Linked DNA regions of Homo sapiens: regions 1, 2, 3, 4, 6 and 7 are each reported to be linked to region 5. Evidence: microRNA targets listed by miRTarBase, many of them from high-throughput screens and not tested one by one. Region 5 holds a microRNA gene; each other region holds the end of a gene's coding sequence.
Evidence for each region. Region 5 holds the annotated microRNA hsa-miR-21-5p (UAGCUUAUCAGACUGAUGUUGA, at 2,103-2,124, shown strand). A microRNA usually pairs through its seed, bases 2 to 8, with sites in the 3' UTR of a target mRNA and lowers its output. Matches are read on the target gene's strand: a 7mer-m8 pairs with bases 2 to 8, a 7mer-A1 pairs with bases 2 to 7 and ends in A, and an 8mer does both.

Region 1 (4,066 bases), not on the chromosome of region 5:
GTACCAGACCTCCTTCAGATCAATAACAACCCATGTTACTGGGGAGTGATGGATAAATACGCAGCCGAAGCACTACTGGAAGGAAAACCAGAGGGTACCTTTTTACTTCGAGACTCAGCACAGGAAGACTATTTATTCTCTGTTAGTTTTAGACGCTATAGTCGTTCTCTTCATGCTAGAATTGAACAGTGGAATCACAACTTTAGCTTTGATGCACATGACCCCTGTGTCTTCCATTCTCCTGACATTACTGGGCTCCTAGAACATTATAAGGACCCAAGCGCCTGTATGTTCTTTGAACCACTTCTATCCACTCCCTTAATTCGGACTTTCCCTTTTTCCCTGCAGCATATATGCAGAACAGTTATTTGTAACTGTACAACTTATGATGGCATCGATGCCCTTCCAATTCCTTCTTCTATGAAATTATATCTGAAGGAATATCATTATAAATCAAAAGTTAGAGTACTCAGGATTGATGCACCAGAACAGCAATGCTAGTAACAGGATGGGAACATGGGAATGATAATATATATTTTTTCTTTTAATATTTTATTTTTCTTTTTATGCCACTTTGGATTTTTCTACAAAGGCAGTGGTGTCCAAAATAAAATCTCTGCCCTAAATTTTACTAATAAATCCATTTTTCTAGTGATACACAAATTGTTTAAGGTTATACACTCGAGCTTAAATAGATATTTTTAACCAGGTGTTTGGTTTTTGTTTTTACCGTGTAGGTTGTATACTTACATTTTTTCTTTCCTTAATTTATACATGATCCTTTTTCCTTAATTTATACATGATCCAGGCACATTTGAAATTTGGTAGGCATTGCAAACACATTTGAATATTGTGTATTTCATACTATTCTTTAAAAGTAATCTTATGTCCTTTCCTACATGTAAAATATTTTGTTAATCTATGCCATTAGTAGTATTATATATAAAATATAGTTCCCCGTCCCCCTTTTCATTGAGTTTGATATTCTTCAGTAAAGCTGAATGTTGTAATTCACCATTCATACTAATGTTATTGACTTTTGTAACTTACTAATAGGGATGTTAAAAGTAACAAAACCAAGTCAAACTTGGTGTATTTTTATTTTAAATATTAACTCTAAAGCAGGATTACTAAATTTGATTAATCTGGTCAATGAGAATCAAATGGAAACATATCATTCTGGAGGTGCACTTACTCTTCTACAATGTGGCCGGATCATTTGTCATTCCTGAATAGGTCTTTCTCTCAACCTGCAAGAGCTAAACCATCTTCAAAACATAAATCTTGTTCCTTTCTCATTGGAAGCTTTGAAAATAATGATAACACTATTAGTAGCTAGTAGTTACTAAAGTGCTAAAGTAATTGTGGGGTTTTTCTGTATTAGCTTATGAACTGTTGCTTCTACTTAGCCCTTTTATAGAAACTCTGAGCTGTTACTTTGGGGAAATTCCACAATGTATTAGCAGCCACAAATTTCCACTGGTAACCAAAGAGTACCTAAGTAGTTTTTCATTATTTTAAGTTGAATTTGAATAAAGATTCCAGAAATAAACATGGAGCTCAGTATTCAGGAAGCTTAATACTGTTTTTGATCTACAAGATCCAAATAATTATCCCTATCTTCAGAATTAACTTAGTCTGTAATGTGGCTTCAAAAAAAGAAAGCCTTTTGACAGCTACATGACTTACACCATACAGAACAGTACTGGACAAAAGGGGTGATATTTTAAATTTACTATCCCAGAAACAGGGCAACGTTTTTAGAAACATCTTTAGCCCAAAGTAACTAGTAAAAATAAATGGAGTGGTATCCTATCTTCTTTTTTTAAGGAATCAATGAATAATAAATGTAGATAGACAATTTTCTTCTGGTGAGCTGTCTAACCCTTTGTACACATTGACATTTTTAATATCGTAACTGATTTCTTGATGCTAGTTTAGCTATATTAGGAAACTGCTTCTACCTAGATTGAAAGAAATTTGACTCATAAACTTCCAAGTTAGAACAAATATTTCTTCATTATTGTTGCTTTTATGTGAGTAGCATTTCCCTATCTTGCAGTTCTGTTAACATGAAAATGGCATTTTTCCATAATAGCTTTAAAATAATTTTTTAGTAATTATTACAAAATTAAGGAAAATCTCTATTACCGTTATCTTTTAGCATTTTTTTTTTCCTCAGTGATCTCAAGATTGTCTTAGTCTCAATGAGATGTAGCTACAAAAATGGCACCTCTTAGCAGTGATGAGGCTCAGGATATCGGATATCATAACACCAATGTCAGGATAAATATCTCTTCTAAAGACGATATTTACCTTTTACAAGGTTAGAAAAGTCTCATACTACCTCATCTTTATTGTGGCGCTTTTGTAGATCACTGAGAAGCTTATCTTATTAACCAATATACCACTTCCTAAATATCCATCTTTGGTGAAAGAAAATAGTGTGGTAAGAGTACCCATGATTATAGTTTTTTATCAGAATTTGATAAGATTTTCTGTTTCTGTGAAACAATTATTTTAAATATTTTTCTTTTAAAAATAACTTTTTATCAGTACAGAAAAACCTAAGGGATGACTAGCTTACAAATATTCTGTTAAGGGGTAGTTTTATAAAGAAAAATGATATATAGTTATGTTGTCTTTTATAGTGTTAAAATTAGTATTTATATGAAAGTCAAGATCTAAGTACCTTTTCATATAATTCAAACTGATTGCTTGTGATATGTTTTCTCTGGCTTTTTTATTTTTTCAACTTCAAGGTATTAACAGCTGTTAACACTTAAAAAGTACTGCCACATATGTAGCCTTGAAGTAGTTGATCTAATAAATGAGAGCAGGGAGGAGATTCATTGACTCTGAAATGATTTTTATTTTTCCTTTGGTATTTGCTACAGTGAAAAGAAGTTTGGAAAGTAGATACATAAAGACTTGAGAAGGGAATTGTTTAAGGGAAAAGAAAAGAGTAATAATTTTTTTTAAAACATTAAGGAATTGGAATTCAGAAAGGTTACCCCCTTCCTCTGTGTCTTTGTAAGGATACATTTGGAAGAACATACAGTATTCAGAAACTAACCTATATAAAATGTAAACAATATATTGATTGCACTATATAAATGAGTAAATTTTGAGAGGAACAATGTGGGAATGTATAAATTTGTCTAAAATTTTATAACTGTTGAACAAAGGGAAGATTTGAACAGTGTAAATTCCAGAGTTGAGAAAGCATTTAGCATGGTGGAAATGTGGAGAGCTTATTGGTGAGAGAGGATGGAGCTAAGAGAAATAAGATCAAATATTAAAATTAGGAATTTAGGCATTACCTCAGGGAAAAGCCTTGACAGTGAAAAGAAACTACTTAATCGCTAATAGCTAGTCTGGACCAGACACTTAACTGCGCTTTGGGAATCATCCTGGGCTAATCAGGAAATAAACTTGACTTTTCTATTTTTCTCTGAAGCTTTACAGGACATACTCCCACTCCCATTTTTTTCTAAGCCTACAGCATCTTGATTCATAGTATAATTCCTGAAGTATGCTGAATGGACTTTTTAAGGTTCCTTTAGCATTTTTGTATAGAGTTATATGTGATCTTTCTATAACCATGCCATTCACTTAAATAATTCATGAAGGGAATGGTTTAATTTAAAGGAAGACCTAATAGGAAGAAGATTAAAGGAAGCTTTTAGTCAGCCTGTGGCTAGATTTATTGATTTGGTGATCAAACCTGTGCTATTTCCTGAATTTCAGCTAATGGCCAACTGTGGTCAAAGAATGGCTTTCAGTTAAAGTTTTGACTTCTTATTATAAATAATATAAAGAATGTCTCAGTAATTAGAAATCCCTTAATAAGTAGAACAAATGTGGCAAGTAGGACTCCTATCGGTATACAAATTCCATTTCTTTTTATAAGAAAAACACATAAACCATTATCATTTATTCATGAGCCAAAGCCATTAAGAAGATAAATCCAGTTATCAGCTTCCTGTCTCTGAAGTTTGGATCATTTTATAGATCCACGCAATAGAGAGCTTCCTTCCTATGAAACAAAAACCTTGAGATCTCT
Region 2 (4,081 bases), not on the chromosome of region 5:
GCTGTCTCAGGGCAAGGAGGTGAGGACCCTCCTTTTAAGCATTCAGGCGTTCATTTACCAAAAATCCTTGCTAGCTCACTTTGGCATTTCAAATGGCAAGTGATTTTCCCATGAGATTCCTTTCAGTAATGTGTGTTGTTTCTCAACCCTTCCTTGTTTTCAGGAAAGACGGTAGAAGAGGCTGCGGACCTATCGTTGGGTTATATGAAGTCAAGGGTTAAAGGTTTAGGTGGCCTCATCGTGGTTAGCAAAACAGGAGACTGGGTGGCAAAGTGGACCTCCACCTCCATGCCCTGGGCAGCCGCCAAGGACGGCAAGCTGCACTTCGGAATTGATCCTGACGATACTACTATCACCGACCTTCCCTAAGCCGCTGGAAGATTGTATTCCAGATGCTAGCTTAGAGGTCAAGTACAGTCTCCTCATGAGACATAGCCTAATCAATTAGATCTAGAATTGGAAAAATTGTCCCGTCTGTCACTTGTTTTGTTGCCTTAATAAGCATCTGAATGTTTGGTTGTGGGGCGGGTTCTGAAGCGATGAGAGAAATGCCCGTATTAGGAGGATTACTTGAGCCCAGGAGGTCAAAGCTGAGGTGAGCCATGATTACTCCACTGCACTCCAGCCTGGGCAACAGAGCCAGGCCCTGTATCAAAAAAAAAAAAAAAAAGAAAAGGGAAAAAAGAAAGAAAGCAGCAGCATGATCCTGACATGACAGATGTGGGAGACCCACAGCCTGCAGACACTGTGGGCTGGAAGGTGGGAAGGGAGGGGCCGGTGGAGGTGGAGCTGTTTGAAAGTGACACAGCAGCAGTAGAAGCAGTGGTGGGCGAAGCCCAGGTGACCCTCAGAACGTTGCACAAGAACATCAGGGAAAAGAACCAGAATCCTTTAAGGAAAATGTTCTTCATGTATGAGAGACTAAAGTGATTTTTCTAAGAAAGTTCAGCCCTTCTCTGACTTACCTGGACATTTCTAGATACTTCCAAAGGACCCTCTGGGAATCCATAGCTTCCTAATCTGGAGATGGGAGGTCATAAGGGAGACGCTGTGGGGTTCCTTGAAGTTTCTTGGGTTCACAGAGGAGCCCCCTCACTTGGTGTTCTCCCGTGAGCCAGCCTCCACCTGCCAAAGACACTCTGGTCCTCGTATAGTGAGTAATGGGGCTCAGGGCCTCTCCAACAACAGAGAGGAGCTGATGCTGTAGGGCTGACCCCGTGACTTCCTGAGTCCTCACCCTGTCCAGTGCTTTGAGATTCTTCCCACCTCCCCATCCTCACCAGCCGGATCGGGCGCTGTGCAGTGTGGTCAGCATGGTGAAGAAAGTCATTTCCTCGGTGGGCAGTATTCCTCTTTATCTCTCATTACACTGGAAATGTTATTTCTGCTGTATCATCCGTGCTCAACGTTTTAGTCTGTCAGGCTCACCTTCTCTCTGGAAAGAATTTGCTTAACTTGACATTCCATGTGCCGCTAATAAAATATATTTTGAAAGAATAAGGGTGTGGTTGGGAGTCACTGTTGACAAAGACCAGAATGTACACGAGCTCCCCCCTTGGTCTCAGGTGTACTACAGAGACCTCGAGATGAGGATGGTGTGGAGGGTGATATGTGCCACCTTGTGGAGTACTCGTGAGTTTTTCAGAAGAACTGAACTTTTTCTGAGTGGGTCAAGGAAGAAGCCAAACCATGATAGGGTTTATGGCGCAGTCTTCCTGCAGTTTGCCAGCATTCACCCCAGACAGAGGTGCACAGTAAAAACCTCAACATGCAACAACTCCCCCTTTAGAAACAAGTATTTTATTAGGAGGTGTATTAGTTGAAGATTGCCACAACACGATTCCACAGACTAAGTGACTTAACCAACAGAAATTTATTAATATTTTCTCAGCTCTGGAGGCTAAAAGTCCAAGATCAAGGTGTCGGCCACGTTGGTGTCTCCCGAGGCCTCTCTCCATGGCTTGTGTAATAGCTGGCCATCTTCTCACTGTGTCCTCACATGGTCTTTCCTCTGTACGTGCACAGCCCTGCCATCTGTCTCTATATGTCCTAATCCCCTCTTCTTATGAGGACACCATATTAGATATAATTTATATATTATAATATATAAATTATATAATATATAAGTTACAATATATCTAATATGGTATATTTATTATATATTATAATTTATACAATATATAATATATATTATAATTTACATATATATTATATATAATAAAATATATAACATTTATATAATACATATATATTATATATCATATAAATATATATACTATTATATATAATATATGATATATAATATTATATATTTTATGTATTATATATAATTTGTTATATATTATATACTATATATTATATATCATATATTGTATATATTATATATTATATAAAAATATATGATATATAATTTATAATTTATAATATATATTATATATAATATGTAAATTATAATATTAGATTAAGGTCCACCCTAATGACCTCATTTAACCTTAATCACCTCTTCAAAGGCCCTGTCTCCAAATACACTCACATGCTGAGGTACTGGGGGTTAGGGCTTCAGCATGTGAATTTGGGAGAGGACAGAATTCAGTCCATAACAGGAGGCAAAACAGAATCATGTTGGGGTTTGGAAAGGGGAGACCCTTTGGAGAAGACAACAATCGCTAAGGAGATAGAAAAAAGGAAGGAGGGAGCTGGGGGATAGGGAGGCCAGTTGGAAGATCTGGTTTTGAGCTTGTCTTACCAATTCTCCAGTTCACAAGGAAATTTACTCTAGTTATTAAAGATTACCGTAGGCTCAGCTTGTGGCCACTTGACCTCTTTAGCTGGGCAGCCCAGGTGCTAGGGTACGTATGGGGTCGTCAGCCCCTTTGTGCAAAGCCAAAGTGTGTATTTTTGCCCTCAGACCTGAGTTGTACCAAAAGCCACCTCCACCAGCCTGGGAGTTCTGTAAATGGAGACCACGTACAGTTCTTGCTTTTGCCCCACAGCTTGTCCATGGCTCACTGTCAAACAGAGAAATGAGCCTGACAGCATCTGAAAGGGGAAGACAATCTTTTTATCACTTCTGTGCCACAAGAGGGCAGCAAACTATAAACTATCCATGGCTTCAGCCGCCCAAAGGGAAGGTACTCTATCTGGATCAGAGCAGTCTATTTAGAAAATTTGGAACCAAAAGAACATTCCTCTTCCTGACCTTCATTTTCGTCCAAATACTACAATTTATTTTAGAGCAGAATTGTCCAAAACACAAACGCTAGCAAATGGCCCGAAGAACCCACCCAGATCAACAGTGGAAGCTCGCTCTGCCCTGGGCGCTGCCAGATGCCGGATGCCAGATCCCACGGTGAACAAGCTCTGGCAGCCCGGCCCCGCCCCCACTTGCTCCTTCCAGCCAGGAAGACAGATACATCGTCATGTGGCTCACCCACCAAAATGGTGGGATAATAAGGAGCACAAGACGGGCCCTGAGCCAAGGCCAAGTGTCCCCAAGCAGGAGTTGCTGCAGTCAGGACTCAGCCCCACTGCTGGGCTGCAGAGAAGAGTCCTGGGTAAGGAAGGGCCTTGATCTCGTAGCTGTTGCATAATACACATTTTTCTCAAATAATATTCCTAGACTTCTTCCTCTCTAGCTTGAGGGATTGTAAACTCTGAGACCAAAGGAAGGAGTGGGGCACACGTTAGTCCCCTTCAGTGTCCTGTTGTCAGAGGTGATGGTGTGTGGGGAAGGCTGGGAAGGGACACTCGTTCTTCCCGCCCCCCACCTGCTCCTCTGAAGTCCTCCCATCAGCCTTCATCTTTGCACAAAACCATCACTGCATTTGGATTTTGTAGCTGTTTCTTTTTTTTTTTTTTTTTTTTTTTTTTTTTTGAGATAGAGTCTTGCTCTGTCACCCAGGCTGGAGTGCAGTGGCACGATCTCAGCTCACTGCAACCTCCACCTCCCAGATTCAAGCAATTCTCCTGCCTCAGCCTCCCGAGTAGCTGGGATTACAGGCGCCCGCCACCATGCCTGCCTAATTTTTTTGTACTTTTAGTAGAGACAGGGTTTCATCATGTTGGACAGGCTGGTCTCGAA
Region 3 (4,081 bases), not on the chromosome of region 5:
CACTCTATCTACTGCTTAACTTTGCTTCCTTTTCTTGAACTAATTACAAATCCCAAAACTTGTCTTCGCTGACTCATCCTTCAGGGAGTGAGTGCAGTTAGCATTGTGGTAAAGAACATGAAAGTCTTCAGTTTTAAATATCCACAATTTCCAAATATCTGTGTTGTCTAAATGAACCATTTTATTAAGAGGTATAATTTAGCCCTCTTCCTAAAGATCCATGGACTCTCCTTTTGTCAGGTTCTACCCCTATAAAATTCCTCTAGATTTCTGCATTTACCATAACAGCATCGGAACAATTCCAAGCACACTGAAAGGAACTTTTGAGAGGTTAAGAACAAGCTTAGGTGAAGGAGAATAACCATGATGGAGGGGAAAGTAGCCAGGAGAGATCGACCCAGTCTCTGTGATAGGGAAAGGGAGAGGGCTGTTCAAGTGACACATGTGCTCTCCTGTCCCTCCAGATGAACACGTCACTGCTGGGAAGCATCGGCATGCTGAACTCGGCACCTCAGCTGCGCTGCATTAAAACCTACCAGGTGCCCCCTGTGCAGCCCGCGTCCCCCGGCTCCCACAATGCCCTCAAGCTGGCCCGGCTCATCTGGACTTCCAACCGCAACGTCATCCTCATGGCCCATGACGGGAAGGAGCACCGCTTCATGGTCTAATGCTGCTGCCTGCCGCCGTGACTGCGTTTTAGTTCTCTAAATTATCCAAGCCGATGTTGCTCTGTCCTTCCTCACACCAGATTGTTCCCAGGGGCCTGCCCACCCCAGTGCCATCCAGTGGCACGGCCGGGTCTTGTCACTTGTGCATGCTTCTCAGGGGCAGAACCCGCTCGTGCCATCTGTCGATTCAGAGGCACGCACACATGCTCTGCAGGATGTGGCCATCCTGTCACCAGGTAGTTTTTCCCTGCCAGAGATGGCAGGGGAAAGCCAGTGGTTCCTGGGAACGCTCTTGTTGCTTGGTGCAACAGAAGCACAAAAATCAATAAACACTGTGATTGCACTCCCAGCCCAGATCAGCATTTTTAGCCATCTCAACCGCACCTCTGAAGTGCTGCTTGAATCTGGCCGTTCTGACACTGGGTGTTGAGGTCATGTGGCAGTCCTCACGATTGAAATTATTGCCCTTTGAATTACCTAAAATATTGTTTACCAAAAAGATTCTGTGTTTACATGTTCTTTTCTTCTGGTGATTGCTAGGAAATTACTCAATCCAATTTCCTAGGGTTTAGCTACCACCTTCTTTATCAACAGCTAACCAATTTGAGATTCATGATTAATTATGTACACAAAAATATTTTCCTTGTAGAAAATAGTTTTCCAGACACTTAGCCTTCTGAAGTGCTCATCTCTTGCTTAAATGATAGTCTATTTAGTAGTTTAAAATAAAAATAATCACTCCCTATGATCTAGTTAATGTAATTATCCAGTCACTGTAACTAATCTCTTGAAGGGACTTTTGTGATAAAGAGCCAAGTTCAGAAGCATAGCGTGTACCGAAAATGAAGACTCTCCTATCTACTGCTACAGATCCTGTTGAAGAAAGAGCTTACCCCTTTCCCCCGGAAAACTTGCAATCCTGTAGTTCCCATATGTGTGGCATATGTCAGTTATGAAATTATTATAATTCAGCCTTCAAACTACTACTGATCAACTAAAGGAAAGCTAATAAGGTATTTCTTTTAAACAAGTATTCTGGAAAAGTAATAACTATGGCACAAATGTTCAGGAGTGTATATAAAAATATGTGGGCTCTCGATTTATTTGAGCAAACATTGCAATGAGGGTGTTCATTATGCTTCTAAGTAAGCTTTAACTAGACCACTTTCTTCTTATGTCAGATTGTGCTGGTTCTAGCTCATAATAATGAAAAAAATAGAATTATATTTTGTATGAATTGTTTCTAACAAACCTTGATCTGTATATACTTGTGAGGGGTTGTTTGGTTGCCTAATTGTTGATTGGTTGGTTAGTTGGGCAAAATCATTTATTACATGCAAAAATAGAAAATTATTTGTTAAATTCAGAGAAAATATGTGAAGTTTACAAAGGAACCAAAATGATAATGGGAGAATTTAGTCTTAAAAGTTTAGGTTGTCAGAGTTTATCTGATATACAAAAAAGTAGGATCAAAGTCTAGGAACAAACATTGGTTATTTCACTGAAACAGATTTTTAAAGAGCATATTAAGAAATTAAGACCATTAGATCATCTCTTTCATAATGATATGATGTTATTTCCATTGACGGCAAATCTATACTGTTCCTTGGTTTTAGAGTTGGGTATTCTTTCAAAAGTGAATTTAGGCACATGCATGTACATTGTATTTATAAAGATTATATATGTAGTTTCCAAGGAAGAAACAAAGACCTATACAGTTTAGACTTTATTTGTTTGGTGAACGTGCTGTTGTGTTTGGCATAGCTAGAGAAATGTAAGGTAAAAGGCTCACTTTGTTTTCCAGTGGGTCCAGAGTCTTCTCTATACCCAACATATGTTTACTTTATGAACTTAAATGGAAATTAATTTATTGTAGACTACATCTCTATTTGGAATGATGAGGTAAATGTATACCTTAGCATTTTCTTTAACAAAAATGTTCTGTGTGTCAGGAAAGAGGTGTGAGAGTGGTAGGCAGCCTGCCGCAAACACACGGATGGCTCCCCCCGCCACGAAGGTTGAGAACAAAGCCAGGGGGCCCAGAGGAGCAATAGCCCTGGGCCACAAGCGTGGGTAGGCCTTTCACGTATTCCGTCTGCACAGGCAACCAAGGCCAGTAGAAAGCTATGGCTGCAAAACCCTGGGGTGGACGATGTTTGATGATTAGACGGTCATCTCTAACTACTAAACTAATATCTGCATTCTTGTTAACATAAATCTCTCCTTGGCTATTTTAATAGCCACAGTCCCAAACTTCATCCCAGCTTAGATTTCTCAGCACTGAGGTAAACTCTGCATTGTCATCCCAGCGTACACCTTTAATGTTTTATTGATTTCACTGGCACTGTATTTGGACCTGTCCTTGTATATGTAGAGACATATGTGGCTTCATTGGTAATTTACAAGCAAAAGATGACATGACGTGACACCTGTATGAAAATGTGATGATTGAACTCCCTGTGTACAGCGAGTGAATTAAAATGTCTGCCTCTCCAGACATTTCTTAATGATTCCACTTAATAGACTCTATGTGTGCTGAATGTTCCTGTGTACATATGTGTGTTAAATAAAACAATTGTATTGAAGACTGTTTTTCTCACAATATTACCTTTTCCAGTGTTCACTCATCTTAAACATCCTCAGTTGAAATCCGTATGCTCCGCTAGCCCTGCTGCTTCTAATCATTCATTTCCCTGGAGAGCTGGCTTGGGAAAGGCAACTTATTCCCAGAGGACAGTAGAGCAGAAGTGCAGAGGTAAGCTCTCCCTCCAGAAACTCACTGGCACTCTCTGTGGTTTGGGAAAGGCGTTGCATGCCTGTTGCTTTATCTCTACTCTACATGCTCCCAAATAGACTGGTAATGGCACCAAATCATATCTTGTCAGATTGGATGGCATGGGTTGGCTGCCTCTCGGGAGCTAGGCTGAGATCATCAAGTTCATTGCATTTCACGCTCAGTTTGGAGTCGAATTTGAATCCCTCAGGTAAAGGGTATAATTGGTTTTCAGAAAAATCAAGAATAATAAAATAGGTCCTTACTGCTCATAGAGGGTTATGTGTAAGTAGTGAATGTACTTCTTGTCTCTTAATTATTTCAGATAAGAACACAAAAGCTTGATTTGAGTCAATCATCGTGTAACAGTATAATTTTCTGTAAGAATTCGGTGAACATTCCAGGAGTGGTCTGAGGCATCTTGGGCCCTATTAAATGCCCACTGTGGGCCCCAGGAAATGTTTTAACATCTCATGACTTAAATGTATTCTTATAGGGAAAATAGGGGCAGTAACAGTTCTATATGATCAGCGATCACATAAACTGATCAAATGTGGAAAGGCGTGACGTTAATAGGAAGGTAAAGCCAAGCAGTGCTGGGTGAACTTTCACCTTTCACCCCTTCGGCTGACTGACAGAG
Region 4 (4,077 bases), not on the chromosome of region 5:
CTGCATAGCCAAGTACTATGCAACCCATGTAAATTGACCTTGCTATTTTACATAGCATAGCCTCTGGATAGCTTTTATCACTTTCCCAGATGGTGTTTGGCCTATGTATTTTAGTGGAATGGTTTATTTTCTCCTTGATAGGTTTCAAATGCACAAGAAAACATTATACCCGTCTATCTGCATTTGAGTAGAATACAAACTGACTAATAGATAAACATTCTGTGTGAAAGTAAATAGCCTTAAAGTATACTGCCTTCACATTCCATTGATCAGCTCAGTCAGCAAAGTTTTTCATATTGTCACTAATGTTCTAAATATTTGGGAGAGAAGCATGCCAGAAGTGTAGAGTATTTCCATTTGTGTCACATATAAGGTCATTATGAACTACCTCTTGAATTTCTATTGATCCCAATACTGAAGTGGTTTCCTTCACTTCCTTTTTGTCCCTGTTGGAAATGTTGCTGCAGTTGGGAAGAAGGGAATTAGGGGCTGTAAAGTGGAATGGCTCAATCTCTTAGCCAGACAGTGAGGGATTTGGACTGGCTCATTACCTTACCTTCATTAATAGCCTTCTCCAAATTCTTAGCAGTCAAAAAGAGGCCAAGGGTATGAAGCCCCATTACTCAGTTGTACTATCACCGACTGTACACATTCACTTCTGAGGATGTGGTACCCCACCCCCACTCCAAGTTCCAGAATAGATGGTCAGAATAGAGCTCATTATTAAGCTAGTTTATAGAAGAGCTCATAATGCTGCCATGCAGAATCAAAGAATCACAGGAGAGCACTATCTACTCAAAGGTCAGCCATATCTCCTCCAACAGATCTTCATTTCTTCAACATGCCCAATTTCCTAAGAGATCAAATCTTGGATTTTGTGAGGCTAAATGAAAATCACATACGACTTCAGCTTCTGTCTAAATACATGGATTTTTGACCACTTGCATCTCAAATTAATTTTTAAGTCACTCAGAGTTCTAATTTTTAAGTCACTTAAAGCTAAAAGCCAAGATGTATGACTTCAATTTATTTTCAGTTTTATAAATGAGTGTAAAACACAATAGTGCAGTCATATATTTGGCATTAAATCTTACTAGCCACAAAAAAATGTGGGTCAATATTGGATTTTCCAAAGTTGTCTAAATAAGACTGGGTTTGTCAAAACTTGCCAGACGCTTTCAAGTGAACACAGCATGTTGGCGGAAATGAAATATAATGTCTAAAAGTCAGAAAATAGGTCAGCACTGTGCAAAAGTAAACTTGTCAGTGAGATCAATATGAACCTACAAGTTAATGTGGATATTAGAATTTCCTTACAAGGGATGCACAGGGTAGACCCAGAACACGATTGTAGCATTTATTCACTTGCGAAAAGCAGAGGGCGTATTTAAGTATTATTTTTTGTATCCTTAATGAAAGGCACTGCTTTTTAATATGGAATATTTATATTTAAGCACAGCTTTAATTGACAGAATGTCACAGTAAATTAAATTCTGGTTCAATTGCTCAGTTTTTAGCAACATAAAAAATAAAAAAAGGGGAGTAAAGATCAAGCATCATAAAATTTCAGAGATAAGAAATCCCTCATGAGCTTTCTCTATGTTAAGTGTTTCAGAGAATTGGATATTGTGGATAAGATCGGTAAAAATTTTTGTAAGAAAAAAAAAACAGAAAGGCCTTTCTTGGGGCTTCTCATTGCATTTATTTAAATTTTTTTAAAAATGTACATCACTTATTTATTGAATACATAAAATGCCAGTGCTTTGCAACAGTTTTGTTACTGCATCTCTAAACTAAAAAAAGAAAAGGGGAAAAAACCCAGGAAAATACATTCAAAAGGCCAGGCTGTTCTGCTTATGCATGGGCAGTGGCTGTGGAAAGCTACAGCCTGCTCTGTGACAGTTCAGAAGCATTGCCAAACATCAGCCCACTATCAATGAAAGGTTGCACATAAAGCATTAAAGGATACAAAGAACAACTTGACAGAGAGCAGGAGAAAAATAGGAAATTAAGAAAAATGCCACTTATGCCATGGGTAGGGGTGGGGCTGGTAGACTGAGGTGGAAGTAAGCACAAATGCTGATGTCTTTGGAAACTAGATTTACGGTGAAAGATGGAAGAAAACAAAGTAACATGTTTGGCAAGCTACATTGCAGTGTGTGTGTCCACTTCCAATTTTCTACTTTACTTTCCAAGAGAAATGTAACAAAACTGAGGTAGAAATAAAGCAGGAGCACTACAGCCCAGATTTCAAAATGAGAAGCAAAATTGCACTGACAAGAGTGGAGTCAAAAAGAAGGGGAGGAGATGGAGAGGTTCTTTGTGGATATATATATGTGTATGTAAGTTGGTTTGTTGGTTGGTTTTTGTTTTTATTTATTTGTGTATTTGTTTTGGTTGCTATCCTCTGCATTCTATCAAACAGCACGGCAAGTCTATAAGCTAGATTAGTGAATAGAATGACACCATTCCCAGCAGTTTTAAGAGATAACTTGCAAACTACCACCACCATCACCACCACTACCACCTATGCAATAAAAAGGCAGTCATAGTTTTTAGGTACTGTGACTTTCAGGGTCCTAAACAGGTCTTGTGGCTGACAGGTCTAGACACTAACACAAACTGAATAAGTAGCTTTCAATTAACCAGTGTACCTTTTAAGAACATTTTCACTTAATTATCAAGGAGCAATGTACTAAGAACTCTTGCAGTTATTGACATAAAGAATTATTCTGCTCTGGTTAATTCCCCATAATTAGTAAAAGAACTTAAAAAAATCCTTCCATTTCTACTTTAAACTGTAAATATTCAGTTGTATCACACTTCAGTATTTTTCTGGATACATTCAAAGTAATTTTCCTTGCTATTTTCCAATTGTTGAGGTAAACATACATTTTAATATAAAGTAACATTGAAGCCTATCCTATTACTCTCAGCAGTACATAGTGCTTTCAACACATTCCTTTGAGGTACTGTACAAATCACAATCACTTTCCTGAGTTTTTGCAGACAAGAACATTAAAAGAAATGAACTGCAGAAATTAAGGTCCAGATTACCGTTACCCTGTTTTACCTGTTCTTAGCTTAATACTGCAGAACAGACAGGATTGAGGAATACTGTTGCTCTTAAAATGGCAAAAATCTGGTTTTCTGTCATAACACAACTGTTCATCTCTTTAGTCCAATAATGTTTGAAGTTAAAGCTCTTTATATTAGCACATGCCACCAATGTAATTGTGAGGCAAACAAAAAATAAAGCACCACTCCAGGCACTTGACAGCAACTAAATCTCGAGAACAGCAGAATGGAATCAACACACGAGGTTCATGTCCTTCTGAAATCAACACACTTGCACCTTGCTCCTTGGTGAGTGTTGTCTAGCTTGAACAGAACTGAGCATCCACATATGCTTTCTGTCATCTGGGGCTTTCAAATCAGAAGCTCTCATTTGATGCACTTTTCCTCCAAATCTACCCTGACTCTAAAGATGCAACTTAATCGTCATCTTCCCCAGTACCCTTTGCAATTTAAACTCTACTGGAAAGGGGCTCTATTCCCTATGTAGCAGGTTTTATGTGTGTGTGCCAACATTCATTACATTTTTTTTTTCTAAAGAAGTTATCACTGACTGCAACCAAACATTTTGTTCCATTCAACATACATATCAAGCTCCTTTTGAGATATGCTAGGCTGAATCTTGCAGAAAGCATTTTCAAAGTCTTGATATGTAACGGGCCTCAACTGGCTGGGCATAATGGCTGAAAGGTCTGTGGCTGGCATGGCATGGAGGGGGCCCACCACTGCTTCCTGACACAAATGAGCCACATCTAGTCCAGAAAAGCCTTCTGTGCGCTGGACGAGCAGTGCAAACTCCTTGTCATTGAGACAGTAATTGTGCTGTGAGAGCAGTTGTACTATTATCTGGTGCCTCGCTGTGCTGTCAGGAAGTGGGATTAAAAGTCGTTTCATGAAGTACCTCCGAAGGGATTCATCTATTTCTTCTGGTTTACTGGTGGCACAAATTACTACGATTTGGTCCTCAGCCGAAGTTAGTACAGTGTCCAGTTGCATCAGAAA
Region 5 (4,081 bases):
TTTAATAGAAACAGGGTTTCACCGTGTTAGCCAGGCTGGTCTCAAACTGACCTCAGATGATCCGCCCGCCTTGGCCTCCCAAAGTGCTGGGATTACAGATGTGAGCCACCGCGCCCGGCCAGAGCACTGTTTTTTTTAATGGCCTTGCACTCTTCTTATGGACCTTTGCTGCCCTCAGTTGACCAAACATGACATCAGAAACAGATACATTTGTGTGTTTTAAAAACAGCTCCTAATACTGGAACAAAAATATTTAACTGTCTTGACAATACTCATGAGTATCTGCATGGCGACTTCAGAGTTGAGTTTAATCAAAGAGTTTATTCTTAGGTCCTAGTAGAAGAGCTAACCTCACACTCATCCCATTCTAAACTATGTGATTCAACACTGATTTTACATCCAACAAAGTGAAATCTTGATAGTTGGGTGTAAAAAGGAGAGTAATGGAGATTTCAGAGTAGTTGGGGTTGCTTACTTTTCATTTTTAATTCTTTAGGTTTTGTAAGTTACACACTTCAAGCATTATAGATGATCCTCTTTTTACTACTGAACTAATGAAGCCTTTTTCATTGCATTGTTCTGCATTTATTTCTACAGGGAGAAAACTGGTTGTCCTGGATGTTTGAAAAGTTGGTCGTTGTCATGGTGTGTTACTTCATCCTATCTATCATTAACTCCATGGCACAAAGTTATGCCAAACGAATCCAGCAGCGGTTGAACTCAGAGGAGAAAACTAAATAAGTAGAGAAAGTTTTAAACTGCAGAAATTGGAGTGGATGGGTTCTGCCTTAAATTGGGAGGACTCCAAGCCGGGAAGGAAAATTCCCTTTTCCAACCTGTATCAATTTTTACAACTTTTTTCCTGAAAGCAGTTTAGTCCATACTTTGCACTGACATACTTTTTCCTTCTGTGCTAAGGTAAGGTATCCACCCTCGATGCAATCCACCTTGTGTTTTCTTAGGGTGGAATGTGATGTTCAGCAGCAAACTTGCAACAGACTGGCCTTCTGTTTGTTACTTTCAAAAGGCCCACATGATACAATTAGAGAATTCCCACCGCACAAAAAAAGTTCCTAAGTATGTTAAATATGTCAAGCTTTTTAGGCTTGTCACAAATGATTGCTTTGTTTTCCTAAGTCATCAAAATGTATATAAATTATCTAGATTGGATAACAGTCTTGCATGTTTATCATGTTACAATTTAATATTCCATCCTGCCCAACCCTTCCTCTCCCATCCTCAAAAAAGGGCCATTTTATGATGCATTGCACACCCTCTGGGGAAATTGATCTTTAAATTTTGAGACAGTATAAGGAAAATCTGGTTGGTGTCTTACAAGTGAGCTGACACCATTTTTTATTCTGTGTATTTAGAATGAAGTCTTGAAAAAAACTTTATAAAGACATCTTTAATCATTCCAAAATTGTGTCCGTTTTCTTGAGCGTTTTGATTTTTTACTTTTAGCTTATACCAGCTGAATGGCAGCCTTGCCTAATCCACCTACAACAAGAATTTCTTAAGCTTTCTTTTATTTGCATGAGAGAGCCACTACCAAGGCATGTTTTGTTATGCTGAAACTGGGCTGCTGCATACTGCTAAATGGCACCTCTGGGATTGGCCTACCTGGGGATTTCTTGGTTTGTGAAAACAGGAGAGGAGAAATATCTCATACAAGTGAAAGGATACTGGAGAGAGAAATTACCCATTTCTAAAAAAAAACCACACTCTGTCGTATCTGTGTTAATGTTTTCTAGCATGTACTCTGGTTTCAACAGACACAAATTTATATGTTAACCCAGTTTTCTTGCCGTTCTGTAAGTGTTTTATTCTTAGTGTGATTTTTTTCCATTGGGATGTTTTTGATTGAACTTGTTCATTTTGTTTTGCTTGGGAGGAAAATAAACAATTTTACTTTTTTCCTTTAGGAGCATTATGAGCATTATGTCAGAATAGAATAGAATTGGGGTTCGATCTTAACAGGCCAGAAATGCCTGGGTTTTTTTGGTTTGTTTTTGTTTTTGTTTTTTTATCAAATCCTGCCTGACTGTCTGCTTGTTTTGCCTACCATCGTGACATCTCCATGGCTGTACCACCTTGTCGGGTAGCTTATCAGACTGATGTTGACTGTTGAATCTCATGGCAACACCAGTCGATGGGCTGTCTGACATTTTGGTATCTTTCATCTGACCATCCATATCCAATGTTCTCATTTAAACATTACCCAGCATCATTGTTTATAATCAGAAACTCTGGTCCTTCTGTCTGGTGGCACTTAGAGTCTTTTGTGCCATAATGCAGCAGTATGGAGGGAGGATTTTATGGAGAAATGGGGATAGTCTTCATGACCACAAATAAATAAAGGAAAACTAAGCTGCATTGTGGGTTTTGAAAAGGTTATTATACTTCTTAACAATTCTTTTTTTCAGGGACTTTTCTAGCTGTATGACTGTTACTTGACCTTCTTTGAAAAGCATTCCCAAAATGCTCTATTTTAGATAGATTAACATTAACCAACATAATTTTTTTTAGATCGAGTCAGCATAAATTTCTAAGTCAGCCTCTAGTCGTGGTTCATCTCTTTCACCTGCATTTTATTTGGTGTTTGTCTGAAGAAAGGAAAGAGGAAAGCAAATACGAATTGTACTATTTGTACCAAATCTTTGGGATTCATTGGCAAATAATTTCAGTGTGGTGTATTATTAAATAGAAAAAAAAAATTTTGTTTCCTAGGTTGAAGGTCTAATTGATACGTTTGACTTATGATGACCATTTATGCACTTTCAAATGAATTTGCTTTCAAAATAAATGAAGAGCAGCTGTCCTTCTTTCCTCTTTTAAGTGTTCAGCTGTGGCATGCTCAGAGGTTCCTGCTGGATTCCAGCTGGAGCGGTGTGATACCCTTCTTTTTCAGCTGTTCGTGCCTTCCTTTCTTGTATCCACCAAAGTGGAGACAAATACATGATCTCAAAGATACACAGTACCTACTTAATTCCAGCTGATGGGAGACCAAAGAATTTGCAAGTGGATGGTTTGGTATCACTGTAAATAAAAAGAGGGCCTGGGAATTCTTGCGATTCCATCTCTACTTTGTATAAGTCTCATTTTGTGCCTTACACATCTGCAGTATTTATCATGTTCCAACTTGGTGACTGTCAGGCAGTGCAATACATCAGCAGTTTATCACCGAAGAGCTGAGGAATACCTCCCTTAAAACAGACAATGTCGGCCGGGCGCGGTGGCTCACACCTGTAATCCCAGCACTTTGGGAGGCCAAGGCGGGCAGATCACCTGAGGTCAGGAGTTTGAGACCAGCCTGGCCAACATGGCGAAACCCCATCTCTACTAAAAATATAAAAAATTAGCCGGGCGTGGTGGTGCACGCCTGTAATCCCAGCTATTCAGGAGGCTGAGGCAGGAGAATCCCTTGAACGCAGGAAGCAGAGTTTGCAGTGAGCCGAGATGGCGCCACTGCACTCCAGCCTGGGTGACAGAGCAAGACAAAAAAAATAACAGATGATGTCATATGAAAATGTGCAATGTCCAGTTTTCCCATAGTTTTCTGTATTCTCTGTGTGCATAATCTGGAGTATGAGTCTGGGAAGAAAAAGGTTTTTAGTTTCATTTGGATAGTGGCCACCTCTCCATTCCCTACGAATGCTAGAATGAAGTTACTTTTTTTTTTTTTTTTTTTTTTTTTGAGACAGAGTCTTGCTCCGTCGCCCAGGCTAGAGTGCAATGGTACAATCTCGGCTCACTGCCACTTCCGCCTCCCAGGTTCAAGCGATTGTCCTGCCTCAGCCTCTGGAGTAGTTGGGATTCCAGGCGCCCACCACCACACCAGGCTAGTTTTTGTATTTTTAGTAGAGACGGGGTTTGGCCATGTTGGTCAGGCTGGTCTCGAACTCCTGACCTGAGGTGATCCACCTGCCTCGGTCTCCCAAAGTTCTGGGTTCACAGACGTGAGCCACCATGCCCACGTAGAATGAAGTTTCTTAAATACACTAGTTAATTATTGAAACATATGCAGTATTGAGTGCTCCTACACAAACACGCTCAGCCTCTGCCCCCAGTGTGCTCTGTG
Region 6 (4,081 bases), not on the chromosome of region 5:
TTGCACTCACTAGGAAGCCAGGGGCCCCTGGTCCAAGCCCGTCTCAAAGAAAAATGTCAAACCTTTCAAACTAGTTATTTTATTAAACGATATTAACACACATTTCAAAAGGATTTCATTGTTGTTGCTTCTAAAGCATGTACTTGTTTTGTTTTCCACACCGAACACGTGAGAATATCAATCCAACATATCTATTTTAGATCTTAACAGGCGCCCCCGCCCACTTAAAAAAAATAGTGGGGGAACTGGGGAAAGCAGTAATTTACAGCGGCTTCAAAACAGTAACAGCTGAAGCTCAATTCTGCAGGAACCGGTAACTTCAGGATTGAGAGTGAATATCCTGCCATTAGGAAGTTTATCGTATTCACATTATCTCGATAGGTTTGCTGGACCCATATATATCACAAACATTTTATTCCTGGTATTGGAAAGTATAAAAGTCCTATTCTCTGCTTATTTTCCCCTCCCTGGAATCAAACCAAATTCTATTTACTCTCAACTTTTGAGAGGGTAGAGGGGAGCAGGGAGAGAGCTCTCATCTAAGCTGACTGAAGAGTAAACTCTTTCAAAATACTTAAGGACCCTATTTCTGAACTGTATCACTGAACTTTAAGTGGTACTAGTGTATTCACAACCCCTACCAATTCTCTGTCTGTGATTTTACAGTGAGTACCAAGGACCTTACAACTTCTCACATTCTGCTTCCATATGAATCATGTCCTTGCTAAGACACACTATGTTATGCTTTCTTTAAAAAATATCTTGTTTATTTGTTTAAACTCAGGTTGAAATACAAAAGTCAGAGCATGGTCACGGAGTTTTAAATCACAGACACAGAAAGAATAAAACCCCTTTCTTTCACGTTATGAATACCAGAACTGTCTTTTCTGTTTCACTATTTATCACATATATACACACTGTCATCTTCATTTACTGATGTAAATGTAAATTTTAAGATTTCCTTAAAATTAATAGCTGACAGTCTCATACAAATCCTCACTTCCATCCTAAAACAAACATATTGAGGATTTTGTGGCTTAAAAAACAAAAAAGTACCCCACAAAAACCCAACTCCTTAAAAGCCCACCTTCGAAACTGTCCAACAAAGTCTTCCTTTCATGTATTAACCATCATACTTTTGAGGACAATTATCCCGCCCCAACGTTCAGGAAGCCACTTTCCTGACATCCCCACATTTTCTGATAAAAATTAAATGGTCAGAGAGCCTTATCAAGTAAACACTACTTTTAGCTTAAACAAGAGCAGCAAAGAGAATTCACATTCTTTTATTCTAGAATGAAAAACATCCCATTTAATTTCTGCAAAAAAAAAACCTATTTCAATTTTGAAAGTCAAATATCATTTCCCCACCTCCCACCCCATTTTCTCTTATGCTTTTCCCTAACAAATGTCTTAGGACTCAATATAACTATACTTTCTTTTCTTTGCTACACTACATACCCCATCCCACACGTAAGGTCATGGTATCATGCATTTTTGTGGGGAGAGCTACAGGGCAGAGAGGGTCGAGGAAAGAAAGAACAGTTGGCTTAAGACCAGACAGGCATTAAGAAGATGAATGACCTGCAGCATCCTAACCCCAGAACACATGGCGAGCCCAAATAAATAACAGAATAAATTACGCAAAAACTCCCAAATCATGATGTGCACCTGGTTTATGCTGCTCTTTCTCTGAAAAGTTCATTCTGAGAGAATCATTTTCTGTCACTACATTGCCCACCCTCCCCCATCTTTAATATTCTACTGGAGGAAAAAGCAACCCCATACTTCCTATAGTTAGTTCTATACTAACTTGGAAGAAAATATGAAACTTGCCAGAATTCTCTGGAAAACTAAACACATACTGTTTTACTCATCTAGCTGGAGATTATCAGTTGAGTATGCCTTGGGGTAAGACACTAAATTAAAAAAAAATTGTAGTAAAGCAACATTTACTTTTCAGTGTCCCTAGATATAAAGATATAAACACTCAAAGTACAGTGATTGTCTATTTCCCAAGTACTAGATGTAGAAATACAAACAAGTCTTTCAGTCCAGGGAGAAGGAAAGCACTTATCTTGCATGTAAAACAACTAAGGGCAGAAATGGTCTTTATTTCCTATTGGGAGCGAGAGGTGGGGGTAAGACTTGAGCCTTGAAATGGGATAGACACATGTGTATAATATAAAGGAAAATGCTACTGAATCTCCTCCTTTAAAATATCAAGAATAGGGGTGAATAACACGACTGAGGCAAGGGGAAAAGGAAGATAAAGACAAATATTTCTTTCTTTAATAGTTAACCTTTGTTGAAAACCACCAATAAATATCACTTACATTAGGGAGGCACCATGGTAAAATTAATGTCTACTTCTTATATTTAAAAATGCAGGGATAATATTTCTGTTGCACCTTTGTATCAATAGTCAACTGTAGTGACTGTCTTTCTGGCCACAGCAGAAGAAAAACTGAGGGAGATAAAGTCAAAAAGGAAAAGCAAGAGGCATGAGCTTGGTGCAAGACATGTGAAACTACCTTGAAAACATTTCCTATTCTCTTGTTTACAAAAAAACAGGCAGGTCACATCACACCATTAATGCTTCCTTTCCTTATTTTACATACTGTAGTCACTCCTTATTTTAACCTTGAGGCTGATTAAAAAAAGATTTTAGGAGAAGGGTAAAGAACTAAACTTCAACATGCCTTTAAAAACAAAACAAATAAACCTGACAGGTTCAAGGTCTCTCACATTTCCTCCCTTGCAACATCTCTTGGCTGTTAGCAGGACACAGATACACAGGGAAGGGAGCCGAGCTGGCTACAGCAGTTACTAAGCTGCCGAGAGAGGGGACGGGAATCCTTCCATTGACTACTCGATAAGCCAAGCCCAAAATAACATCCCAACATTGCACATGTGGTTATCTGTACTGATGGAAGTTTTATTTCAAATGTAATAATACTCTTCAATAGATGGGGTAAAATAAAGATTGTTTTCCTCCCCACTCCCCAACCCCCCAGCCAAATGAAATGGCTTTGGTTGTGTTTCTTTACTTTTTTTTTTTTTTTTTTTTTTTAATACAAACAACTTGGGGAAGGTAGATAAGTGCAATGGGAGGGAGGATTGAATTGAATAGTAAAACGTAAGCGTATGTGATTTCTTACTTTGGAAGAGAGGCCCTTTGTTATAATAAAAAAAAAATCGAGAAAGAGAAAACAAATAAAAACAACAACAATAAACCAAACTCCTACTTCCAATGTTCTCTAGACTGTTCAAAATGCCTTTCCCTTGGTTTCCATCAGTACCTGGGAGGGAAGAATGGGCGTTTTGGTGCAAAGAACGGAGGGCCCCTAGCAAAAGGTGGCCTGGGTCTCTTTAAACTGTGAAATGGGTCTCTGCTGAGAAAAGGTTCCCTAGGCCGAAAGTCTGGCCGGGGACTCCGTAAGATTATACCACTCCGGCTGATGGTGTCTCTGTGTGAGGGACCCAAGGGGGGGCCACTGCTGCTGTTGCTGCCTCCCCCACCTCCTCCTCCATGGGGTGGGCCCAGGTGTTCCAGAGAATGGGAGGGTAGGGTGAGGCTCTCTCGTACACGGCTAAGGCCAGGGCCGTTGAGGTCCCGTTGGGTGGGGCCCCCGTGGTCCCTGGGTCCTGGGAGTACCCCAAAATGCTCAGCCAGGGTCCCTTGAAGGAGGGAACTATGGTCCTTGGGAAATACTGCCACAGCCCCTGCCACTCCGTGCTCTGCCAGTGGTGGGGCTGGGAAGGGTACAACTCCAGAGTGGTCAACAGGGGGTGGAGGAGGGGGTGGAGTAGAAAAGGGGACACCACTCCCACCACTGCTGCTATGTTCCCCAGGAGGGGGAGGAGGAGGTGGGGTAGGGAAAGGAATTCCACTGTGCTCTCCAGGAGGAGGGGGTGGGGCAGCATGGGCCAGGGCTGCCTCCTTTGTGAAGGGGTTCGAAAGATCCACAGAGGGTAGATGAGTGGGTGCATCTCGAGAGAAGATACCACCATGATCCTTAGGAGGGACAGGTGGGGCAGATGATGGCCCCACTGGCTCTCTCTGGAAGGGTGTCCCATG
Region 7 (4,000 bases), not on the chromosome of region 5:
TCGTATGTGATTTATAAATTTCTTGGCAAGAACAAGATTTTTAGAAGAGGCTTACTCACACTTAAGACAGAGTGAAAATTACTCTCACAGAATGCAAAGTATAGAATAATAAACATCACCATTACCTTTAAATGCCATACAAACATCCTACATTGCAGGTTGCAGTATCAGGTTTCCAGAATTTCCAATAAGGCAATACCTACACAAATATTGCCAGGCTAAAAATGTAGCAAACTTGCATTCCCAAACTGGGAGAATCTAGCTTATTTGTAATACTTTGTGAAAAGATACTATGAAACTAAAAAGGTAACCGTGGAGTGGAAACTGCTACTAGAAAGTCTGTTATCAGTAGCTACTTCTACTTAAGTCCTCCATTCTCTCCCAGAAGAAACAAACCAAACAAAAAGCATCTATCAATATTAAAACCTGCCTCAATAAAAGCCTAGTGTTCTAACTTAGCACCTCTAGTAAATCTAATATAGCTGCTGCCCCTACGTGCCATGGTAGGCTAATTTGAGGACACCATCTTATAATAAATATACTTCTCCCCTAAATAATTGCGATTTCTCCCTGTACCTTCCTTCCAACTGGAATAAAACATTTTAAGTAGTTATTTTACTTTAGTAAATATTTTTAGAATTCCTATTTGAGAATTTGTTTTCCTTTGACAGAAAACATAATATAGGCTAGGCTAATGAATTTTTTTTTTATTCTACTGGGCTTTCTTCATCTGATTATATAATGCTATGAAAGCTTTTTTTAAAAAAGATTAGTAAATATAAATAAAAATGTTCATCAAGAGAACCTTTTGTAGGTTAGGTAAGAAAATTGTTACCACGTGACCATAAAAACACCCAATAAAGAACAATTTGAACATGGGCCTTCAGTTTTGTAGACAGGAATAATCTTGAACACATATCAACATTGCAACCACTGCAGGTCAAAACATATACATGCAGATATAGACAGGTGTTCATATACATCTAGAAGATCATCAACTCCTCCTTTCTGAAATTTTCATTGCCATAACACTGGCAACTTCTTTACCATCATCATTAGTCCTAGAATGAGTAATATCTACATAATTGGTTGGCAAATTTGATTTATAGCATACTCCTTTGTGGTCTCATTTTCTGAGAGTGAAAGGTGGTTTGGAGAATTAATTTTTTGGCAATCTATAGGCTTTCTTCATCATGAATCAAATCTCACACCTCAGTATACTGACCAGTCAAAAGTCTCTAAAGAGTTTTCTTTACAACTAGAATACTTCCTATTATAAGCCATCAAAGTTGCAAACAAAACAACATTAGTAAAAGAGCTCCCTCCTGTAATTCTAGGAAAAATGAATCACTATTTTGAGAAGGTACAAATATGAATTCAAATATTGTAAAGGAAGAGGACTTCGAAGTTATTTCACAAACTCCATAAATTCCTTTCAAAATATTCTCAACCACATTCTCCTCCTAAAACTTAACTCAGCCCTCCAGTCCTAAATTATCTACACCCAAAACACCTACCTGACACCAGTACAGCTGGCCCTCATATTAAAAATCCATGACCTAAGCTGAATTTTAATAACTTTGAAGAGGAACAGAGAGATACACAGGAGGTTATATCTAATTGTTACATAAAATGACCTCAAAGGATATACTTTAAATTCTTTTTTTTTTGAGGCAGAGTTTCGCTCTTGTCTCCCAGGATGGAGTGCAATGGCGCAATCTCAGCTCACTGCAACCTCCGCCTCCCGGGTTCAAGCGATTCTCCAGCCTTGCCTCCTGAGTAGCTGGGATTACAGGCATGCACCAACATGCCCAGCTAATTCTGGGATATACTTTAAATTCTATCCAAAGCTAACAATGGGTACATCAGACTCAACTTGGCACCATCAAAACAAAGTTAAAAGGTTAAAATGGGAAGGACGATAAAGAGAATAAAGAGGAAATGAAGCTTTCCCCTTGATATTTTAGCTCATTCTATATTGTAATCTTACTATTTGCTTCCTTTGAAAGAATACTAAGGAGTTAGTGTTGGGTGATAGCTTTGGGTGATAAACTGAACTAGAATGGTTTTCATAATCTCTAACACAGTGTGCAACACGGATACTAAAATGTGTGAAAAACTGTCTTCCACAATATGGTTTTCTCTTGGTCCACTTTACACAAAGTTAAATAGTGACCAAAAATAAAAGCATCTATAGTTTTAGAAGAAAATAGCACGTCAAATTTTTGGAGTTAAATGTGATTGTCGCCACCATGCCCGGCTAAGATGAGACTATGCATGCACCTGTGTGTGTGTGTACATACACATCCATGTACATACACACACCTTGGTTTAAAAATCACTTGAGTAGGCTGGATACAGTGGCTCACAACTGTAATCGCAGCACTCTGGGAGGCCGAGGCGGGTGGATCACCTGAGGTCAGGAGTTCAAGACCAGCCTGGCCAACATGGTGAAACCCCATCTCTACTAAAAATACAAAAATTAGCCGGGCATGGTGACAGGTGCCTGTAATCCCAGCTACTCTGGGGCTGAGACAGAAGAATTGCTTGAACCCAGGAGGCAGAGGTTGCAGTGAGCCAAGATTGTGCCACCGCACTCTAGCCTGGGCAACAAGAGCAAAACTCCATCTTAAAAAAAAAAAATTACTTGAGGAGTTGTGCTATATTTGGTAGAGATGAAGGAGAAATCAAGGGTAAAAGGCTGCAAGGGAAGACTAAGCAACAACGGACATATGGCCATATTTATTTATTTATTTTTGGCCATGTTTATCTTTGTAGTTAATCTTTAAGGCACAAAATAAATGTAAAAGCCAGATTAGGAAAGGGAGGGGGCCATTGCAGATCTTTTTTCACCTAATTAACAACTCAGGAGACCAGACAAAAGAAACAACAAATAGATCCTTTCCTGTGTTCGAATTAACCTATTTTAAACTATTTAGCCATTTTGTTTTTTATTTATTTCTTTGGGTTTTGTTTTGATTCTGTTTGACCCACTTAACTAAAATGATACTATAGATCCTTCAAAAGCAGAATCATGCCAGTTACACATCTCAAATCCTTTGATCTACTTACTTCGTACTTTAAGAGGTAAATTTGAGAATGAAAATGGGAGACTCCAATGCAATAACACCTACATAAGGAAAAACACACATAAACACCCACACATATTCCCCAGCCTCAAAACTAAAGCAAGGTACACATTTACATTTCCAAACCCCAAAGCCTAAACTGTCCAGGAAAAGATTCTAGCTTTGTGGGCTGAGTTTATTTTGCTTCTGGTTATAAACAAATGTAGTGTATACACACATCTGTCCAAGAAATCTTGCACAAGGTGGATTTTACATGGGGTATCATGCACAAGATTAAAAACAAGACCAAAAGGTGGAAATTTTAAAAGAGGAAAATATAAAGGCTCCAAGGTTTAACTGCTCTGGGTAGAAGAGATCACATCTGTTGACTGAGGATCACAGAAAGGCCCAAAACGTCCATAAATATCCTTGGCTCGTACTGCAAAGTAGTATTTGCTACCAGATACAAACTGGGTGAGAGTACATGCCATGGGCAAGGGAAGTGCCTTGACTTCCCCAATCTTTTTCCATTGTGAGGGCACAGTGGCACTGGGTTCCTCATGGTAAGCATAGAGATGGTAGCTATCAACAGTGGCACAGCTTCGATCCACCTCCAGGACACTCCATGACAGTACTATGCCATTTTGACTCTGAACGCGTGCTAACTTCAAGTGTGGCTTCTGAGGCAGAGATGTGCTGGCAGCTTCTGGGGGCAGACGCTGTGGTTGTGGAGCTTCTGGTAAGGGTGCTGGGTGCACGGGGCGTGGGGGCTCCTGAAGAAACAGGTCACACTGATTAATGATGATTGCAAAAAGAACTATTTTAGAATGTTAGAATTAAAACACCTTAGAGAACATACGTAGAAGTATCATTTTATATCAAGAATTCTAGGAAATACCAAATACCATATCAAATTTGGCAAGTTCTATTTG

Region 1: miRTarBase lists SOCS4 as a target of hsa-miR-21-5p. The part of its 3' UTR that is shown has no 7-base or 8-base seed match.
Region 2: the mRNA of ASRGL1 is a reported target of hsa-miR-21-5p. The part of its 3' UTR that is shown has no 7-base or 8-base seed match.
Region 3: miRTarBase lists WDR7 as a target of hsa-miR-21-5p. The part of its 3' UTR that is shown has no 7-base or 8-base seed match.
Region 4: miRTarBase lists FIGN as a target of hsa-miR-21-5p. Seed matches in the 3' UTR shown: 7mer-A1 at 3,081-3,087.
Region 6: miRTarBase lists RPRD2 as a target of hsa-miR-21-5p. Seed matches in the 3' UTR shown: 7mer-A1 at 1,249-1,255.
Region 7: the mRNA of ATF7IP is a reported target of hsa-miR-21-5p. Seed matches in the 3' UTR shown: 8mer at 260-267.

What each region holds. Positions count from the first base shown.
Region 1 is chr14:55,043,864-55,047,929 of GRCh38, forward strand. SOCS4 (suppressor of cytokine signaling 4) reads left to right here. Exons shown (of 3, transcript NM_199421.2): 3 at 1-4,066. The coding sequence ends at 501. Among named protein-coding and RNA genes, the nearest start is that of MAPK1IP1L, 5.8 kb to the right of the region's middle.
Region 2 is chr11:62,391,916-62,395,996 of GRCh38, forward strand. It overlaps ASRGL1 (asparaginase and isoaspartyl peptidase 1), which reads left to right. Exons shown (of 7, transcript NM_001083926.2): 7 at 164-1,497. The coding sequence ends at 369. Among named protein-coding and RNA genes, the nearest start is that of SCGB1A1, 25 kb to the right of the region's middle. RefSeq lists enhancers at 2,956-3,025, 3,136-3,185.
Region 3 is chr18:57,026,540-57,030,620 of GRCh38, forward strand. WDR7 (WD repeat domain 7) reads left to right here. Exons shown (of 28, transcript NM_015285.3): 28 at 465-3,253. The coding sequence ends at 668. Among named protein-coding and RNA genes, the nearest start is that of WDR7-OT1, 11 kb to the right of the region's middle.
Region 4 is chr2:163,605,931-163,610,007 of GRCh38, forward strand. It overlaps FIGN (fidgetin, microtubule severing factor), which reads right to left. Exons shown (of 3, transcript NM_018086.4): 3 at 1-4,077. The coding sequence ends at 3,622. Among named protein-coding and RNA genes, the nearest start is that of FIGN, 130 kb to the right of the region's middle.
Region 5 is chr17:59,839,171-59,843,251 of GRCh38, forward strand. It overlaps MIR21 (microRNA 21), which reads left to right and starts at 2,096; the gene lies at 2,096-2,167. It overlaps VMP1 (vacuole membrane protein 1), which reads left to right. Exons shown (of 12, transcript NM_030938.5): 12 at 598-3,085. The coding sequence ends at 741. RefSeq lists enhancers at 1-418, 1,142-1,871 and a silencer at 3,157-3,351.
Region 6 is chr1:150,472,549-150,476,629 of GRCh38, reverse strand. It overlaps RPRD2 (regulation of nuclear pre-mRNA domain containing 2), which reads right to left. Exons shown (of 11, transcript NM_015203.5): 11 at 64-4,081. The coding sequence ends at 3,296. Among named protein-coding and RNA genes, the nearest start is that of TARS2, 13 kb to the left of the region's middle. RefSeq lists an enhancer at 3,634-4,081.
Region 7 is chr12:14,497,495-14,501,494 of GRCh38, reverse strand. It overlaps ATF7IP (activating transcription factor 7 interacting protein), which reads right to left. Exons shown (of 15, transcript NM_018179.5): 15 at 1-3,841. The coding sequence ends at 3,422. Among named protein-coding and RNA genes, the nearest start is that of PLBD1-AS2, 31 kb to the left of the region's middle.